Homo sapiens: one gene and its partners. The protein of the gene in region 1 interacts with the protein of each later gene in a pairwise test. Each region holds a gene or a part of one and is shown in the gene's direction. Other genes may lie near its edges.

Region 1 (3,500 bases):
TTAAAAAAAAATGTTTCAGCATATCCTGAGAGTGAAAAAAAAAGTGTGTAGGTACTTAAATAAAGTCTAATATATGTACAGGCAAGTACATATATTCAGATGCATAGATTTTTACAAAATGAACACACCCACGTATCCAGCACCCAGGTCCCGATCAGTGCCCTGGAAGTCCCCCTCCCCATACCGCCTCCTAGTTGCTCCCCCAACAAGGGTACCGCTCACCTGACTTCTAAGGTTCATTTTGCCTCTTTTAAACATGTAAATGGAGTCACACAGTACGTTCTTTTGCCACTGGCTTCTTTTGCTCACATCTGTGTATGTGACTCTACTACAATCTATCCATTCTACTGTTGATGGGCATTTGTGTCATTTCTGTTTGTGCCACTGGGAACATTCTTGTGTCTTCTATTATTTTTTTCCCACAGTTCTCTTAGATAGGAGTGGAATCGCCCCTGCTACTTTTTGATGCATGTGTTGTGGGATGTGTATTTGGAAATGGTGTTGACTAAGGGTTGCAGGTCGATATGGAAAGCAGGTTCCTCCCTGTCTTGTTTAAGAGAAGTGAGTGAATGATCCATGAACTTGTCGGTATGCTCACAGGGCCTAAGAGTGCTACTTCCAAATGTAAATTCTGGCATGGTACACTGGTGAAGGATGCAGTCTTGCTTTCTCCACACTCGGGGCAATTTGTCACTATGATTTCTTCCTCTTTCATCCCTCAGTGGGTCAAACTTGAAGCCATCAATGACAATTAAGAATCCTCATTTATTTCATTTTTTCCCCTCTTCCTAAGTGAGGAAACCCAAATGGAAGTCTTTGATGTTCAAATTTACATTGCCGTGTTTTTCTCATGCCAGGCAGCAAGCCGTCTTGACCACACACCTTGGTTTCATGTTTTCATTGACTGGAATTGTGATTCAAATAGGGCCATGAGGGTCTCTGATGATTGCCGAAGAGCTCAGATCTGTCAGCTCAAAAAGGAGCATCTGTCAGCCTTCCTAGAGTTCCCTCCCCACTTAATGCCACTCACTCCTTCTACCAAGTGCCAAGGTGAATGTCATCTTTCCAGCCCTCCCTGTGCCACCAGGTCTCCCACTGAACATGATGTAGAAACTCAGGCCATCGGAGGAACACTGGAAGCAGGTCAGTGTATTATCACGCACAGTTGCCTGAATTACACGTAGAATTCCAGCTTTTCATCCGGTTTGCAGAAATCTTAACAAGACACCTAAAGTCACATTGACATCAGGTGACATCACTTTGACATCTGTGGACATTGGCTGATTGGCACTCCTCTCATTTTTTTTTTTTTTTTTTTTTTTAAGAAAAGCTCTCTAAAGAGAAACTTTCTGCATGAGAAGCGCTGGGAGACATGGGAGCAGGTTATCAGACTCTTGGCCTGTCCTGAGAGATAGAATGTTCTAGAAGGTACTGCCGTAGAGGGCAGGATGGTGTCACTTACGTGATCCTTGTACTAGACCGGCTTGGCTGGTATTTCCAGAGGAGCAAAATTCTGCGAAGTAAAATTTAGCACGGCTTTTCCAATGGGAGTATTTTCAAAAAGGGTGCAATTTCTTATCCACAATTCCCCAATCCAAAAAGCTCCAAAAACCAAAAGACGAGCTCATATAGAGGTAAAACCTAACCTGAACTGACTTCAGTTTGAAGTCTTAATTTACAGTTTTCATTCATTCTACTTGGTGTGCATTTGAGTATGTTTTGCAGCAGAAATGTTAGATGTGCTTGATGATGAGGTGCTGCTTCAGCTCCTGACTGTTAGGTCTGCATTGTAGTCCTGTCAAACTTTCAGGTGTATGGAAGTTGTCTTGTTAACAGGATGGTTCTGGTCCAGCAGGATTTGGGTGGGGTCTGGGATTCTGCTTTTCTAGCTAGCTTCTAGGGATTCCCCATGTGGTAAGTTCATGGGCTAGGGTTGGAGTATCCAGGTTAGATCATAGAGACATCTTGTTATCATTTTTCTTTTCCTTAAAAATCAGGTTTATAGGGGCCGGGTCTGGTGGTTCACGCCTATAATCCCAGCACTTTGGGAGGCTGAGGCCGGTGGATCATGAGGTCAGGAGTTCGAGACCAGCCTGGCCAACATGGTGAAACCCCGTCTCTACTAAAAATACAAAAATTAGCCAGGCGTGGTATTGTGCGTCTATAATCCCAGCTACTCGGGAGGCTGGCAGGAGAATCATTTGAACCTGGGAGGCAGAGGTTGCAGTGAGCCGAGATTGCACCACTGTACTTTTTTTTGAGACTCTGTCTCAAAAAAAAAATAGATTTATTGATGTATAATTTATTTGTAGCAAAATTCACCCTTTTGACATACTGGTCTGCAAGCTTTGACAAATGGATGTAGTTGTGGCCACCACCCAAATCAAGATATGGGACAGTTTCATCAACCCTAAAATACCCCCACAGTGCCCCTCTTGAGTCAGCACCCCACTTCTCCAGCCCCTTCAACCACTGATCTGTTCTCCATCCCTACAGCTTTGCCTTTTGCCGAAGGTCATATAAATGTAATTTCACAGTATATAGCCTTTTGAATGTGGATTCTTTTACTCAGACTTTGAGATTCATTCATGCTGTTGCCTGTGACAGTAGCGCCTTCCTTTTTGGTGTTGAGCAGGATTCCATGATATGGATGGACCAGAGTTTGCTTCCCAGCCGAAGGACATTGGGATGCTTCCAGTTTCAATGATTATGAATAGAGCTGCTATAAACATTGGCTTATGGGTTTTAGTGGGAACATTTCATTTCATACATTTCATTTCTCTTGGGTAAATTAACCCAGGAGTGAGATTGCTGAGTTGTGTGGTAGGTGTATGTTTAATTTTATAAGAGGCTCTCAAACTGTTTTCCTAAGTGGTTGTACCATTTTACATTCCCATCTTTGCAATGCGTCTAAAAGCCCTGAGTTCTGAATTCCAAAGCACGTCTGGCCTCGATGGCTTAGGATTAAGGATGTGGATCTATGGAAAGGAGTGGAAGTAATAGTGTTAAATCCCGGTCAGAGAAATAAGAAAGATTAAGGATGTCATTCAAAGCTATGTGCCTGCACTAGAGAGAGAGAAAGAAGGGGTTCTCTTGGGTGGGGTTCCACCCCTCCCTGGTAGTTCTACCATTCCCCAGGAAAAAGTCAAGCTCTGAGGCTGTGAGACCCATGATCTTTACCCTGTTCTTCACCACTGCAACCCCAGTGTGTGGGACAAAGCAGGCGTCCTATAAACGTTTGCTGAGCAAATGAGAAAAGGTACCTGTCTTCACCCATTAACTAAATTGTATAACATCTATCTGATCTACCCTTGTGCCAACGTTTTAGGATTTTGATGGGTTTTAGTTGCAGGGGGTTGAGAGACTGTCCATGAGATTATCAGACCAATGAAAGTTTCTGAAATGTTAGTGCTTGAGTAGATTGGATGCAGCGGCCCCTTGAGAATGAAGTCTTTCTTCAGGGACTTGGAGTGGGAGGCATCTGTTGGGTGCGTAGGGCT
Region 2 (3,500 bases), on another chromosome or scaffold:
AGCTCACTGCAATCTCCATCTCCTGGGTTCAAGCGATTCTCCTGCCTCAGCCTTCCGACTAGCTGGGATTTTAGGCACACGCCACCACACCCAGCTAATTTTTGTACTTTTTAGTAGAGACGGGGTTTTACCATGTTGGTCAGGATGATATTGAACTCCTGACCTCAAGCGATCCGCCTGCCTCGGCCTCCCAGAGTGCTGGGATTACAGGCGTGAGCTACTGTGCCCGGCCCAAACATCTTTCCATGTCAGTAAATATTCACCTATTTACAGAGACGCCTAACTGGTGCTGCTGGCTGATTCTGCTCCCCAGTCCCTCCATATTATTTCTTTTCTTTTCTTTTTTTTTTTTTTTGAGATGGAGTCTTGCACTGTCGCCCAGGCTGGAGTGCAGTGGCATGATCTTGGCTCACTGCAAGCTCCACCTGACAGGTTCATGCCATTCTCCTGCCTCAGCCTCCCAAGTAGCTGGGACTACAGGTGTCTGCCACCACGCCCGGCTAATTTTTTGTATTTTTAGTAGAGACGGGGTTTCACCATGTTAGCCAGGATGGTCTCCATCTCCTGACCTCGTGATCTGCCTGCCTCGGCCTCCCAAAGTGATGGGATTACAGGCGTGAGCCACCGTGCCCAGCCCATATTATTTCTTTAAATGTCTTTAGAAAGAACGCGTTTACTGGTTTACCACAATCCCCATCCCTCCCTATTGCTGATTTCACCACTCTCATCAACCACCTTGTTTTTCTAGTTTCCATCATATGGATGGATGCACTGTAAATTTTTTGTTTTCTTTTTTTGAGATGGAGTTTCACTCTGTCACCCAGGCTGGAGTGCAGTGGTGCTATTTCACCTCACTGCATCCTCGCCTCCCAGGTTCAAGCAATTCTCCTGCCTCAGCCTCCCGAGTAGCTGGGATTACAGGCATGTGCCATGCCTGGCTAAATTTTGTATTTTTAGTAGAGACAAAGTTTCACCATGTCGGCCAGGCTGGTCTTGAACTCCTGACCTCAGGTGATCTGCCTGCCTCAGCCTCCCAAAGTGCTGGGATTACAGGCGTGAGCCACTGCACCCAGCCATGTATTTCATTAGACTGTCTTCCTGGACATGTAGGTGGTTTGTAACCTTGGTGAATGGAGGCAGTGGTTTCATCTCTTTGAAGCAATAGACTTTCTGAGTGCAGATAAGAGGAGCGTTTCTAGGGAAGATGGCTACATGGCCACACCAGGAGTCAGCACTCTGGTGACAGTGATGTACCTTGGATCTCTGTGTCCCCAGCTGGAATTAGAGAGAGATTTGGACAGGCTTGTGGCTGAGGCATGTCATCTTTGGACGATGGCTCTGTACTTGGGATTGATTGAAGGTGAGGAGAGCATTGGAGCCCTGTTGAGAGTTAGACACCGGATGCTGGTGATGCCTGAGAAATGAGATGGGGCTCCCATTTCCCAGGGGCTTGGAGTCTTGGGGACAGGACGAGGAAACCAAGGACTGTAGACCGGTTCGTCCGGATGCTGGGGGAGGGGCACCTACAGCACACCCAGGTCTGGGCAACTTCCCGGAGGAGGTGGCCTCAGGCTGAGCTCTGGAGAATACACGGATGGAGAAGGTGGAGGAGAAACAGGCATCCAGACAGAGGAAAGAGCGGGTGCCAGAGGACGAGACCTCAAGTGTGATCTGTTAGGGACTGAGTAGCTCCAGGGAGCTGGACTGAAAGGGACTCACGCGGGGTGGGGAAGGGCCAGATGGAAACGCTCAGGGCTTACTCCCTCCTTTACTGGCATAGGAAGCCCTTGGAGCCAGGGGTGGCATTCAGATTTGCGTTTTTCAGAGCTGCCTCTGGAAGCAGCGTGGGAGACAGATGGGAGGCAGAAAACCAGCCAGGGCTGGGGAAGAAGTGATGGAGAGGAGAGGAGACCTGCAGGGGGCTGGCGATGGATGAGATGTGGCGGGTGCAAGGAAGGTGGCATCCAAGTGGCTTGCAGGCTTCTGGCCCGGGACCCCGCGTGATGGCATGCATAGCTTTCACCAAGCTGCAAGCCACAGGAGGAGAAGCTAATGTGGTAAGGACGGGGGAGAAGGATATGAGTTAATTGGGGGCTTAAAAGCCTTAGGGCAGAGCAGCCTGGTGCGGTGGCTCACACCTGTAATCCCAGCACTTTAGGAGGCCGAGGCGGGTGGATCGCTTTGAGGTTAGGAGTTCGAGACCAGCCTGACAAACATGGCAAAACCCCATCTCTACTAAAAATACAAAAATTAGCTGGGCGTGGTGGTGGGCACCTGTAATCCCAGCTACTTTGGAGGCTGAGGCAGGAGAATTGCTTGAACCCAGGAGGCGGAGGTTGCAGCGAGCCAAGATTGTACCATTGTACTCCTGCCTGGGTGACAAGAGCAAAACTCTGTCTCAAAAAAAAAAAAAAAAAAAAGTCTTAGCGCAGAGCAAAGAGGAGGTGTTCAGCAGATGATTGCATATGTGGGTCTAGACCAGCGCTGCCCAGCAGAACCTTCAGCTGTGGTGCAAGGTGCTAAGAGCTGTGCTGTCTAGTATGGCAGCTGCTAGTCACGTGAGCACTTAAAATGTGGCTCCTTGGCCGAGAACTGGATGTTTCATTTTGTTTAACTGACATAGCTCCATGTGGCTCGTAGCCACTGTACTGACTTAAACATTTGCAAGCCCAGGTCTCAGCAGCCAGGTCAGTGGTGGGGACATGGAATGGGGCATTGTCAGCTGAAGATGTGGTGTGGACCAGGACAGGCAGAAAGAGGTCAGGCACGGTGGCTTCACGCTGATAATCCTACCCGCTTTGGGAGGCCAAGGCTGGAGGATTGCTTGAGACCAGCCTGGGAAACATAGTGAGATCCTGTCTCTAAAAAAAAAAAATTTTTTTTTTTAATTAGCTGGATGTGGTGGCATGTGCTTGTAGTTCCAGCTACCCGGGAGGCTGAGATGGGAGGATCACTTGGGTCCAAGGGTTTGAAGCTGCAGTGAGCCATGACTGTACCACTGCACTCCAGCCTGGGTGACAGGAGACCCTGTCTCCTAAATAAATAAATAAATAAATGTAGAATTAGGAGCAAGAGGAGCTGAGAGCTGAGGAACAGCCTGGGAGAGCACCTGTCTTTGGGGGTTGATCAGGAAGGCTAAACACTGGGAGACAGTGTGGGCCAAACCCCATGGCTGAAGAAGAGGGCAGTCGACATTGGCAGATGCTTACAGTGCGCACGAAAGAGGAATGCAGAAGGGTGTTGGGTGCCACGAGGGTCGTGGGTGATCGTAGCCAAGCAGTCGGGGCGGGGCCAGCAGGAGGAGGGCCAGTGGGATGCTGTGCTGATTATATTCCTGACCTAGAAGCCCCAGGCTGGGGATAAAGCCCTGTCTTATGCCAGGCTTCCTCAGGAGCTGCCTGGAAAATGCTGGGGCTTGTCCAGGCCCCAGACAACCAAATACGTTTGTGCTGCTTGTAAAGGGCTGGGTGCGACGGGGCACCAGGCCATAGAATTCCCAG
Region 3 (3,500 bases), on another chromosome or scaffold:
GAAGTGAGCAAAGCACCTCTTTCTCACTCCACGCAGGTCCCACTAGGGCTCACCTTGGTGCCCAGCCTGGGTTAGCAGGAGCCGACCTGGGGAAACTGAGCTCCAAGGCCCAAGACTGGCTGCCCCGGGTCAGGAGAGGGGACAGGGCAGAAAGAGGTGCCTTTGGGCCAGGTGTGGTGGCTCACGCCCAGGTGGGCGGATCACGAGGTCAGGAGATCGACACCATCCTGGCTAACACGGTGAAACCCCGTCTCTACTAAAAATACAAAAAATTAGCTGGGCATGGTGGCGGGCGCCTGTAGTCCCAGCTACTCGAGAGGCTGAGGCAAGAGAATGGTGTGAACTTGGGGGACGGAGCTTGCAGTGAGCTGAGATCGCACCACTGTGCTCCAGCCTGGGTGACAGAGTGAGACTCCGTCTCAAAAAAAAAAAAAAAAAAAGGTGCCTTTGCTTCAGGGACTGGGGCTGTTAGACCCCTTACCAGGTCTTCTCCGAGGCTCAGGGCCCTGGGCGCAGGCCAAGCCTCTCAACCAGGCCTCCTCATCTCCCCAGGCCCCGGTATTGGTGGGGAGGAAGTGGGAGGAAGGTGAACCCGGGGCAGTGTGGGAAGTGTAGGCGGGGCTAGTGGCTCAGATGGTCCCCAAGATTTTGCCCAGGTAGCCCTGGAGGTGGGGAGGGAGAAGATGAGCTGGGATATACATGGGTCAGAGTAGACCACAAGCTGGCCGATTTGTCCCTGTAGGCCCTGAGGCTCCTCAGAGGGCACGTAGGCCCAGTGTGGGCTGGGGACGGGAAACCTGATTTGCTGAGCCAGACAATCCTTACCCTCAGTGCCCTGGAAGGGGCTCAGACCTTCAGTGGTTCCGAAGGGCCTGTGCCCACCTTCCCTGGCCCCAGGGAGCACGTGGTCCTGTCTGGGCTGGGCCAGCCCTATGGGAGGCTGGGGAGGGCCTAGGCGAGCACAGGTCTGTCCTATCCCTCACTGGGCCCACCCTTTCCAGTGGGTCCTGGCCTTCGAGATCTTCATCCCCCTGGTGCTGTTCTTTATCCTGCTGGGGCTGCGACAGAAGAAGCCCACCATCTCCGTGAAGGAAGGTGAGTGCGGCAGGAGGCCCCAGGCACAGCCGGGGGAGCGCGGCACCTCGCACGCCTGCGCTGTGTGTGCACATCTGCACACGGGTGTCCTGCTCCCGGAGTCCCTGAGGTGCGGTGCCTGCTCCCCTGTGTGGTCCTGGGCCGTGCCTCCTGGCTGGGCTGTGGAGGTCGGGGCTGGCCTGTGGCCGCGAATGATGATGCCAACGCCTCTTCCTGGTGATGTGGGCACTCACTGGTCTCCTCTGTTCTGTTTTGATCCCCCTCCCTCCCCGCATGGTCTCTTGTCCTCGGCTGGCATGCAGTCTGTAAGTGAGCGGCCACCTCCTCCTGGCTGGCCTGGGCAGCAGCTGCGGGGGGCCCATGGGCCGTCCTGGCTTGAGCGCCCTCCCCGCTTGCATTAACAGCCCTCCCGGGCCCCCTGCCGGCCTCAGGAACAGCTGGCTCCAGATGGGGGGTGGCAGGCAGTGAAGTGGGAGGTGGTAGGGAGTGAAAGGCCCGGCCACCTAAAGGCACAGCTGGTGCCTGGGTCAAGCTGAGGCGGCATCTCTCTGCCTGGCCTTGCCTTCTAGGGCTGGGGTGCCTCGGCTTCTGGGCTGAGTCTGGGCTGAGGCTGGGCTGGCCTGGGCTGGGGCTGGAGCGGCCTGGCTACTCTCCCTTCATACTCCTTCAGGCTCTTGCACTCACTCTGCTAACCAGCTGGCCAGAGGTCAGAGGTCACTGCCCAGAGGGGGTCCTTTGTCCTCCCCTGGGCTCTGTAGGCAGTGCCACACCTGAAACGTTTTCGGGGGGAGAGTGCCAGGGCATGTGGGCCTGCACTGGCTGAAAGGAAAGGAATGCTCTGGGAGTTATGGCAGAAGGGGTGGTGAGTGGCTCTTTGACCTCTGACCTGCTGGAGTCATTCGCCCCAGAACGCTTGGCCTGTAGCCCAGCTGGGGCCAGGGCTCTGTGCCGCCTTCTCCCTAACGCTGCTTCTCCTTCCTGACTTTCTCTAAATTTCTCCTCTCGGCCTCTGTCTCCCTCCCCTTCTGGATTCCTCTCTCTCTCTCTCCCCTTTCACCCCCGACCCTGCCCTCTCCCGTGGGTCTGCCAGCCTTCTACACAGCGGCGCCCCTGACGTCTGCCGGCATCCTGCCTGTCATGCAATCGCTGTGCCCGGACGGCCAGCGAGACGAGTTCGGCTTCCTGCAGTACGCCAACTCCACGTGAGTGCCCACCCGCCCCTCGGAGCACCCACCCCTCCCCAGCCCATCCAGTGAGTGACATCCGCCATGGTGCAGGGTCACGCAGCTGCTTGAGCGCCTGGACCGCGTGGTGGAGGAAGGCAACCTGTTTGACCCAGCGCGGCCCAGCCTGGGCTCAGAGCTCGAGGCCCTACGCCAGCATCTGGAGGCCCTCAGTGCGGGCCCGGGCACCTCGGGGAGCCACCTGGACAGATCCACAGGTGTGCCCTGTGCAGGGAAGTTGGGGGGCAGGGCTGCGGGCAAAGCTCTGCTGTCACTGGGCTGAAGCCCACATCCACTCTGGGCCCCTCCACCTGCACTGAGTTCCCAGCCACGCACAGGCTGCAGTGGCAGAGCTGTGGTGTTGGGCTCGGCTCCGAGCGCATGTGGGGGCACCTTGCCAAGGTGCAGCGGCCTCTCAGCCTCGCCTTCCTGCCTGTCCAGTGTCTTCCTTCTCTCTGGACTCGGTGGCCAGAAACCCGCAGGAGCTCTGGCGTTTCCTGACGCAAAACTTGTCGCTGCCCAATAGCACGGCCCAAGCACTCTTGGCCGCCCGTGTGGACCCGCCCGAGGTAAGGCAGGGACAGCTCCCAGCCCTGGCCACTCCCTTCTGCCCCAGCCACGCCCCCTGGTTGCTGAGCCATCCTCAGGATGCTCAGCCTGAGTCACGCCCAGACCGTCTGAACCTTGCCCCCACCATCTGAGCCACGCCCCCACTCTCTGAGCCATGCCCCCACCATCTGAGCCACGCCCCCACACCTACATCGGAGCCACGCCCCCACCATCTGAGCCACGCCCCCACTCTCTGAGCCACGCCCCCACCATCTAAGCCACGCCCCCACACGTCCATCGGAGCCACGCCCCCACCATCTGAGCCACGCCCCCCACACCCCATCTGAGCCATTCCCCCACACCTCCTAGGTCTACCACCTGCTCTTTGGTCCCTCATCTGCCCTGGATTCACAGTCTGGCCTCCACAAGGGTCAGGAGCCCTGGAGCCGCCTAGGGGGCAATCCCCTGTTCCGGATGGAGGTGAGGGCATCCATGTGTGGGATGGGCCTGGAGTGCTGCCTGCCTCTGGGGGTGCTTCTGCTCCGTGGGTGAGGAAAGGGCCCCTTTGGTGACTTGGAGCTCCTCCTGGGAGAGGGGGAGGGTCCCAGGGGTCTATGGCAGGCATGAGGGGTA
Region 4 (3,500 bases), on another chromosome or scaffold:
CCAGCTAATTTTTGTACTTTTTTAGTAGAGGCAGGGTTTCACCACGTTGGCCAGGCTGGTCTCGAACTCCTGACCTAAGGTGATCCGCCTGCCTCGGCCTCCCAAAGTTCTGGGATTACAGGCATGAGCCACCACGCACAGCCCATTAGAACCTTTCAAACATGTCAGCCGCATTCACCCCCCAGCCCCACCCCCTCATTTACAATCCTTCCTTGGCTCCTCGTTGCCAACTGGATGATGTCCTAGCCCCCTGCTATGGTGCCTCAAGCCCTGAGGGCTCTGTCTGGCTCTGGCTCTCCGCGTCTCCTTTCTATGCCCTTCAAGTTCCACTTTCTATTCCTGGAACACACCAAGGTCCTCTCACCTCTGCCTGTACTGCCCCTGCTAAACCTTGATGTGCATTTTGCTTTTCTCCCCACCGCCTCCCTCCCTCTCGGGGATGGAGCAATCCACCCATCCAGACCTTTCCATGCTGGCCCGTCCACGTCATTCTGTCATTCTCTCTGACCTGTTCGGTGGCTCTCCCTGCCCTCTGCTCCAGCTATGGCCTCTTGGCTGATTCTAGAGTGCTGTGCCTCTGTCAGAGCACACTTCTCTCAGGCCCAGCTCGTCCCTCCCCTCCTTCAAATCCCCTTTCACATCCTTTTCCCAGTGGGGCCTCCGAGAGTATCACATCCACTGCTGCACTTCCTCCTCCTTCCCCTACCTTATTTCTCCCCAAGTAGCCTTGGACAACTTTCATCATCTACTTTTAAAATCCGAATTACTGTCTGTCCCTGTCCCAGAACTGTAAGCTCCATGAGGGATTTCTGCGGCTTGTTCTCCTCTGGATCCCCTATGCTTGGCACATGGCATACTTTTTGTTGTTATTGTTTTTGAGACAGGGTCTTACTCTGTTGCCCAGTCTGGAGTGCAGTGCAGTGATCCAGTCCTAGCTCACTGCAGCCTCGATCTCTCAGGCTCAAGCGATCCTCACACCTCAGCCTCCTGAGTAGCTGGGACCACAGGTGCATTACACCATGCCAGGCTAATTTTTAAAATATTTTGTAGGGATGGGATCTCGCTGTGTCTCCCAGGCCAGTTTTGAACTCCTAGCCTCAAGTGGGCCTTCTCCCTCAGCCTTCCAAAGCACCAAGACTGTAGGTGTGAGCCACCGCACCTCGCAAAGAAATACCCTTTTTTGTTTTTTTTTTTTTGGAGACTGAGTTTCGCTCTGTCACCCAGGCTGGAGTGCTGTGGCACAATCTCGGCTCACTGCAACCTCCACCTCCCGGGTTCAAACAATTCTTCTGCCCCAGCCTCCCAAGTATCTGGGACTACAGGCACATGCTGCCACGCCCGGCTAATTTTTTTTTTTTAGACAGAGTCTTGCTCTGTCACCAGGCTGGAGTGCAGTGGCACAATCTCGGCTCACTGGAACCCCTGACTCGCTGGTTCAAGCGATTCTTCTGCCTCAGCCTTCCCAAGTAGCTAGGATTACATGCACCACAATGCCCAGCTAATTTTTTGTATTTTTAGTAGAGACGGGGTTTCACCATGTTGGCCAGGATGGTCTCGATCTTCTGACCTCGTGATCCGCCTGCCTCAGCCTGCCAAAGTGCTGGGATTACAGGCGTGGCCACTGTGCCCGGCCTAATATTTTGTATTTTAGTAGAGATGGGGTTTCACCGTGTTGCCCAGGCTGGTCTCGAACTCCTGAGCTCAGGCAATCCACCCACCTCAACCTTCCAAAGTGATTATAGGTGTGAGCCACTGTGCCCGGCAAGAAATACCTTTTGAATGAATGAAATGAGCTGTATTATCTCCATTTTATAAATGAGGAAACCAAGGCTCGATGAGAAGGGCCCTGCCCGAGGTCACATAGGGAGTTGGTTGCAGAGCAAAGATTTGATTTTGCCATTGGCCCTCTGGTGCCTCCCTGAGGGTGCCTCTCAGCTCAGTGACTCCTGACTCCCACCTGTGCCCTGAGGCTTAGGGGAGGCAGTGCCCACAGGCACAGGGACTTTTTTTTTTTTTCTTGATAGAGTCTTGCTCTGTCACCCAGGCTGGAGTGCAGTAGCATGATCTCAGCTCACTGCAACCTTCGCTGCCTAGGCTCAAGCAATTCTCCTGCCTCAGCCTCCTGAGTAGCTGGGATTACAGGCCCATGCCACCACACCTGGCTAAGTTTTTTGGTTTTGGTTTTGGTTTTGGTTTGGTTTTGGGTTTTTTTTTTTTTTTTTTTTTTGAGATGGAGTCTCACTCTGTCGCCAGGCTGGAGTGCAGTGGTGAGATCTCGGCTCGCTGCAACCTCTGCCTCCCGGGTTCAAGCGATTCTCCTGCCTCAGCCTCCCAAGTAGCTGGGACTACAAGCGCCTGCCACCACGCCCAGCTAATTTTTGTATTTTTAGTAGAGACAGGGTTTCACCATGCTGGCTAGGATGGTCTCGATCTCTTAACCTTGTGATCCGCCCTCCTTGGCCTTCCAAAGTGCTGGAATTACGGGCATGAGCCACCGCGCCCGGCCTAATTTTTGTATTTTTTAGTAGGGACAGGGTTTTGCCATGTTCAGGCTGGTCTCAAATCCCTGGCCTCAAGTGATCTGCCTACCTTGGCCTCCCAAAGTGCTGGGATTATAGATGTGAGCCGCTGCGCCCGGCCACGGGGACTTTTTTTTTGGGGTAGTTAGGATTGGTCTTAGGCAAAGAACCCTTCCCCCCCAATACACGTGCTGAGAAGTTATCCCTTCCTGTCCACCCAGGTTCCCAGTCCCAGCTCTACCCATTTGCCTTGTAACCTGGAAAAGCATCTTTACTAACGTGTGCCTCAGTTTCCTTATGTGTAAGGTGGGGGTAATAGCAGTTCCCATCCCATGGGCTGTCATGAGCACTGGATGAGGTGGCACATGGACCCCACCTGGCATGGAGTTGGGGAGCCACACCCTAACTCCCCACCCCAGAGCCTTCTCAAGTATTTTTGGCTCTTGTTTGCTCCCTTCTGGCACTGGAGGAGCATGAACCTTCCTGATCTGTGCGCCCTGCCCTGGCCCAGAGCTGGTGTAAATAAATGCTTAACCCAGCTCATCTTCCAGAACCCTGAAGCGGGGATGAGTACTTCCCTTCCTTAGATGAGGACACTGAGGCCAGAGGGTGAGTAACCAGCTCGAGGTCACAGTGCCGGTCCCTGCTGAGGCTGGCCTTGCACATGGGGCTGTCTAGTGACCAGCCTTGTTCTCCAGAGAAGGGAGGTGCAGCCAGCCTCGGCCATGTGGAAACATTTCTTCAGAGCCTGGGGCAGTCTTAGTGGTAGCCCTGGGCCTACAGAGTGGACGCTGGTGGGGACTCTGGCCTCCCTGGGGCCCACCTACCTGCTGGAAAGCCAGGCCAAGGCTGGCAGGGGGCTCACATCCCTTATCTCTGCTTTTCCATGAGAGGGAAGCAGGCAGGGGTCATTCATTACTTCTCTGTCCTTTAGTCCAGGAAATAGGCTCAGAGAGGTCAGGTGACTTGCCCATGGTCACA

What was found. Proteins that work in one complex are often made in the same cells at the same time.
Region 2: the proteins of CACNA1A (region 1) and C1QTNF1 interact in a two-hybrid assay, tested with the Homo sapiens proteins (one study listed by BioGRID and IntAct).
Region 3: the proteins of CACNA1A (region 1) and ABCA2 interact in a two-hybrid assay, tested with the Homo sapiens proteins (one study listed by BioGRID and IntAct).
Region 4: the proteins of CACNA1A (region 1) and PMM1 interact in a two-hybrid assay, tested with the Homo sapiens proteins (one study listed by BioGRID and IntAct).

The regions. Positions count from the first base shown.
Region 1 is NC_000019.10:13,499,980-13,503,479, reverse strand, and holds part of CACNA1A (voltage-dependent P/Q-type calcium channel subunit alpha-1A), read left to right. Parts: intron 1-3,500.
Region 2 is NC_000017.11:79,030,669-79,034,168, forward strand, and holds part of C1QTNF1 (complement C1q tumor necrosis factor-related protein 1 isoform 1 precursor), read left to right. Parts: intron 1-3,500.
Region 3 is NC_000009.12:137,021,738-137,025,237, reverse strand, and holds part of ABCA2 (ATP-binding cassette sub-family A member 2), read left to right. Parts: intron 1-1,001; coding exon 1,002-1,095; intron 1,096-1,397; coding exon 1,398-1,400; intron 1,401-2,185; coding exon 2,186-2,297; intron 2,298-2,372; coding exon 2,373-2,536; intron 2,537-2,759; coding exon 2,760-2,887; intron 2,888-3,236; coding exon 3,237-3,347; intron 3,348-3,500. UniProt on the Homo sapiens protein: Probable lipid transporter that modulates cholesterol sequestration in the late endosome/lysosome by regulating the intracellular sphingolipid metabolism, in turn participates in cholesterol homeostasis.
Region 4 is NC_000022.11:41,579,841-41,583,340, reverse strand, and holds part of PMM1 (phosphomannomutase 1), read left to right. Parts: intron 1-3,500. UniProt on the Homo sapiens protein: Involved in the synthesis of the GDP-mannose and dolichol-phosphate-mannose required for a number of critical mannosyl transfer reactions. In addition, may be responsible for the degradation of glucose-1,6-bisphosphate in ischemic brain.